Linked DNA regions of Homo sapiens: region 2 is linked to region 1. Evidence: fine-mapped expression QTL. A gene starts in region 1. The other region holds a variant in brackets. All regions are shown on one strand. Distances are between the middles of the regions. Region 1 holds the start of UHRF2 (ubiquitin like with PHD and ring finger domains 2). Region 2 overlaps GLDC (glycine decarboxylase).

Evidence for each region.
Region 2: its variant is fine-mapped to the expression of UHRF2 in tibial nerve (GTEx, PIP 0.97).

What each region holds. Positions count from the first base shown.
Region 1 is chr9:6,411,470-6,414,277 of GRCh38, reverse strand. UHRF2 (ubiquitin like with PHD and ring finger domains 2) reads right to left here and starts at 1,079. Exons shown (of 16, transcript NM_152896.3): 1 at 635-1,079. The coding sequence starts at 787. RefSeq lists silencers at 262-691, 762-941, 1,222-1,361.
Region 2 is chr9:6,559,961-6,562,768 of GRCh38, reverse strand. The region is part of intron 16 of GLDC (glycine decarboxylase); the gene reads left to right. Among named protein-coding and RNA genes, the nearest start is that of GLDC, 84 kb to the left of the region's middle. The variant C/TC (reference allele first, on the strand shown) is at 1,116.

The DNA of each region.
Region 1 (2,808 bases):
CCCAGGTCTCTAACCTCCCTCGAGACATTCCAAACCTAGGAAAGGCGGCGAGGGAGAGGGACCAGAAGTTCTGGAAACCCTTCGAATCTTCAGTTTGCGCGAATCCTACCACAGTCAGGAAGCAGAGTTAGGGTTCTTATTCTTGAGAGCTCAATGCCCGAGTTTCCCCTGTTTGAGAGCCGAAGACGCGGAAGAGCCGCGGAAGCCAGGCGAACGCTCAGCCGGGTTAGCCAGCTCTCCGGGTCTCCCGCGCGGTGGCATGGCCGCCAGAGCCCTCTGCCCTCCCCGCCCTCTGGGGGCCCCAGGCCCCGCCGAGCGCGGGAAGCGAGGGACCTGGGCACCCAGTGCCTACGGCCGCTGTCCTACCAAATACAAACGGCGAGATATTTGCGCTCCGGACGCCCTCACTTCTGACCCCGCGCGGCGCACCTCCAGTTGGGGCTGGCAGGGACCCACTCCCCACCATTCGGCGGGACTGGGCCCCGCACCCCGCGCCTCGCGGGGGCTGCCCACCCGCAGCGGAGCCAGGTGAGCCCTGCGCGCGCGGCGCACAGAGCCCTCGGACCGGTGCGTCCAGAGGAGCCCAGCTGTTCCGGCCCCCAGCCTCGCTAGGGGCGCGGCGGGCGCGCCTCACCTGCTTGCCCCGGTAGAAGAGGCGCTGGCATTCGGGCCGCACGTCGAACAGCGCCCACACCCGCTCGCGCAGCTCCTCAATCGTGGCTTTGCGAGACACGTCCTCAATGGTGCACGTCTTGGAGCCATCAATGGTGCGAACCTGTATCCACATCTTGGCGCCTAGAGAGGAACCGGTCCCCTTTGTCTCCCCCTGAGCTCTGGGCGCCGCGCCCCGCCCGGCCCGCGCCGCTTTCCCTGCGGCTCGGGCCCTCAGCGGCAGGCGGGCGAGCGCGCCCACCGGACCGACCGGACGCCGGGCCCGACAGGCGGCGACGACTCTCAGCGCGCGCGCCCGACTAGCCGACTTGAGGAGAGACGACCGGAACCACTCTGAGGCGCTGCCGCAGACACCGCCTCAAAGATAGGAAGAGGCCATGTCTGCGCCGCGCAGAGTGTTTACTTATAGAGCTGGAGCTCCCACATGGAGGTCACGGCGCCAAGCCGGATCTCGCGAGATCCACGCCGGGCTCCGCCTTAAAGAGGAAGCGGCCCGGGAGAGGGTTACAGACCCGAGGGAACGAAAATGGGCAGGCGCGGAGAGGGCGGGTCGGAGGGGCGGGGCTACCAAAAGCCGTTACTTGCCCCACCGCCTGCACCTGGCCACTGGGCACGCCCTCTAGCCTTTGGGTTTCGGAAGATTGCGCGGCTACCACATCGGTTGCCGTTTTGAGGCCTCGTTTCAGAGCTGAGGGGGCGGGTGCCTCCTCAGGCTTAGCGGATATGGTTCTTTGGTCTCAAAAACACACCAAAAATAAGAAACCCTGGCGTGCACTTGTATAATCCTGGAAAGGGGGCGCGGGTGGGTGCGGCCTAAACTTCCGAGAAAGAACTGAAGGAAATGTGTGCGCTCCACCGCGCTCAACAGGAAAGCTCCCGCCACGCGGCCTGGCGGGTCGGGTCGCCCGGGAAAGGCCCCGGGGGCCCTCCTGCTTCGCGAACACGTTTCCCGCCTGGCCGCAATGCTACTTTCGCGCGGAAACCCACTTCCGAGGGTTTCCCGTCGCCTGGCGGAGGCGGCAGCTCCAGGCCTATCCTCAGGCCGCGGGTCCCGCTGGGATCGCCCTCTCTGGCTTGCAGCGCTCCCAGCCGGCCCTCCGGCCTTGGAGAAGTCGGGGCAGCTGCCCGAAAGGCCGCTCTCTAACTCCGGACATTTCCGTTCGTAGACTTTCCGCGTTAGGGGTGCCTTTGGCCTAAGGGATTGCGGGTTTGCGGGAAACAGTTTTAAATAATGCAGAGCTACGCGCCTCCGAAGAAAGAACTCCAAAGACCCTACTAGGATTAAACCCTCAGAAGTGGGCCCAACGCAGCACTACCTAACAGGGCTTCCCCCACCCCCCACCCCGCCTTCTTAATCCTTCCCTGCTACAGCTGGGGAGTCGGGGTGGGGGTGAGTGGGTTTATTTTATTTTATTTATTATGTATGTATGTATGTATGTATGTATGTATTTAGAGACGGAATCTCTCTCTGTCGCCCAGGCTGGAGTGCAGTGGCGCGATCTCGGCTCACTGCAAGCTCCGCCTCCCGGGTTCACGCCATTCTCCTGCCTCAGCCTCCCTGGGGTAGCTGGGACTACAGGCGCCCGCCACCGCGCCCGGCTAATAGTCTCGATCTCCTGACCTCGTGATCCACCCGCCTCGGCCTTCCAAAGTGCTGGGATTACAGGCGTGAGCCACCGCGCCCGGCCAAGTGGGTTTATTTTAAATGAAAATATGTCTTCTCAAGAAGGGAGAGAGGATATAAACGTAAACAAAACAAGACAACTTGGACTTCACATTTGCCAAAATCGGTAACTTAAATATTCACATAGGTGCTAATTATTCCCATAAAGGTACAGTACCATTTTTTTGTAATAAACTAATAAACAGCTAAAATAATTACAAGCACAGACAAATCCAGTAGTATATCATGAAAAAGAAGAGAAAGGCCGGGCGCAGTGGCTCAGGCCTGTAATCTCAGCGCTTTGGGAGGCCGAGGTGGGCGGATCACTTGAGGTCAGGAGTTCCAGACCAGCCTGGCCAACATGGTGAAACCCCATCTCTACTAAAAATATTAAAAAACTAGCTGAGCATGGTGGCAGTTGCCTGTAGTCCCAGCTACTCGGGAGGCTGAGGCAGGAGAATTGCTTGAACCCG
Region 2 (2,808 bases), 150 kb before region 1:
GCCAACATAGCAAAACCCTGTCTCTACTAAAAACACAAAAATTAGCCAGGCATGGTGGTGCACGCCTGTGATCCCAGCTACTGAGGGAGGCTGAGGCAGGAGAATCACTTGAATCCAGGAGGCAGAGGTTGCAGTGAGCTGAGATCGCACCACTGCACTCCAGCCTGGGCAACAGAGCAAGACTCCCTCTCAAAAAAAAATTTTTTTTAATTAAAGCCAACTTTCTTAGTTAGAGAAGAAAATGATTTAGTATTCACTAATCAGGGAAGATTTTTTCACATCACTGATGTCTGAGGCAGCTGCTCCCACACAATAGATTCTAATGGAATCCAGCAAAATATATCATTCTTTTTTGAAAGGGAGTGTGGGGAAGTCATGTGCAGGGAGTGTGGGGAAATCATGTGCTACAGAAGTGCCTGGGCTCCTGATGGGTCTTTTCTTTCAAGCTGCTTTTTGAAGTTATTTTCACATTTTCTCTTAGGTTAAATTTCAGAGGTTCCTAAAATGGAATGCCTAACTTCTTGATTTATGAGTTTACTTTGGGAGAATACAAATTTATTTAACAAACACTTATATGGCAATTACCATGTACCAGGCATGGCCTTTAACACTTTATAATTAATATTTCAATTTGTCAGTCAAATCCTGACTTACTCAGCAGACCTCCAGATCTTACGAAAAAATAAAAACTCTAAAGAAAAACAATTAGGTTTGCTGTTCAGAGTCTGAGTTTCCTATACAAAGGGAAAACATTGACCAAAGGAAACAAATTATGTTATATGTAAATCAACAAAGAAAGCTCAAAACCTGTATGGGAATATTTTTTTCTTCCCAACTGCCTGAGACAAAGTAGTGGCCTTTGGTTGTTAGATTTTACCAGTGGTAAGACATTAGTTTCCCTTGCACAGGAGATCTCCTTAACCCTTCACTCATTCAACAAGTCTAAAGATGACCTCATGCTATTCTATGCCACGCGGCACCCTGGGGAGTTGAGAAAACATAGCACCCCCTAAATGGGCATCAATGCACCAAATGCTGGATTTGCTTTGGATAAACCAAAACTTCAAATCTGGGTCGTGTTACTTCCATATCCCTCACAACAATACAATTTTTTT[C/TC]CCCCAAGAGAGACTCTCACTCTGTCACCCAGGCTGGAGTGCAATGGCATGATCTTGGCTTATGGCAACCTCCGCCTCCCGGGTTCAAGTGATTCTCATGCCTCAGCCTCCCAAGTAGCTGGGACTGTAGGCGTGCACCACCATGCCTGGCTATTTTTTGTATTTTTATTAGAGACAGGGTTTCACCATGTTGGCCAGGCTGGTCTTGAACTCCTGGCCTCAAGTGAACCGCCTGCCTCAGCCTCCCAAAGTGCTGGGATTACAGACATGAGCAACCTCGCCCGGCCAACACTACAATTTTAAACTGAGGAAAAACTTAACATTATAAAGAATAATTAAAGTCCTCTAAATCCTCATAGAAAACCAGAAATGTCTGACAGCAACATATAAATGAGTGCTTCACAAAGCCACTGTGACTTCTCTTTCCATCGCTCCTTGTACCAGGATGTGTATTAGTTTCCTATGGCTGCTATGATAAATTTCTACAGGCTTAGTGGCTTAAAACAACACACATTAATTTTCTTATAGTTGCAGAGGCCAGGTGTCAGAAATTGGTTTCACTGGGCTAAAGTCAAAGTGTTGGTAGAGCTGATTCCTTCTGGGGGAGACAGGGGAGAATCTGTTTCCTTACCTTTCCTGGCATCTGCAGGCCTCCTGCGTTCCTTGGCTCGAGCTTCCTGCTTCAGTCAGCACATCTCCCGCTCCCTCTGTGGTCCCATCTCCCTCTGCTTCCCTCTGATGAGGACACTTAAGAATATATTTAGGGCCCAGCCCAAAATCCAGAAGAATTTTTCCATCTCAAGATCTTTCTTTACCTTAATCCCATCTGCAAGTCCCCCTTGCCATATAAGGAAACACCCACAGGTTCCGAGGATTAGGACAGGGATGTCTTTGGGAGCCCGTTATTCAGTGTACCACAGGGTGGTTGACGTTTTTATATGTTTGTGTTTCAACAGAACTCACCTGGTATGAATTCTTCATTTTGGCTTTCTATGAATATTTTATATTTATTTTTAACATTCCCCTTTCTCCTTCTTATCAATATTCTGCCCTGAAGGGATCCTTTCATCCAACGATCCTTTTGTAGACTAGCAATACCTGTGAGAGAGGACAGTGCCTCCAGCTTGGGTCCTCAGAAATTAAAGAAAAAAATTAACTACAAAAGGGAAGCATTCAAACAAGAAAACGGATTTGAGGACAACGTGACATAACCAGTATGAGACCAACAGCCGTTCTAAAGGGACACAAACCTTCTGACAGTAGAAGAGTGCAAAGTAGTTCATGTTTGCCTTTGGCTAATGTTTTCTTTTTGTACACGTTTATTTTTCTTAAGTAGACTCCTTTGCTGTTTTTGAGGAAAGAGCTGTAAGCTAAGATTTAACTTCATAGCCTATTTTCAATAATGCCCATCCATCTCTCTGTGGGATAAAAAATAGGAGGATGATTTTCAGGGTAATCATGGCTTCTCCTTGATGCTTTTTGTTGGGGAAAACCTTCTGACTTACTTTCCCACTGGGACACATCGTCAGTTCTACAAGAGCCTGTGTCCACATGGTTGTTTGGAGGAAATGAAGGATGATTTGAGTCTGAGAATTTTAGCATTGCACCTACTGTCCAGCTTCCATAAAAATTCAGTGCAGCTGTAAGCTCTAACTTAGGCTCAGCTCTTGAGGCACTTTGCCTTGATTTCCTT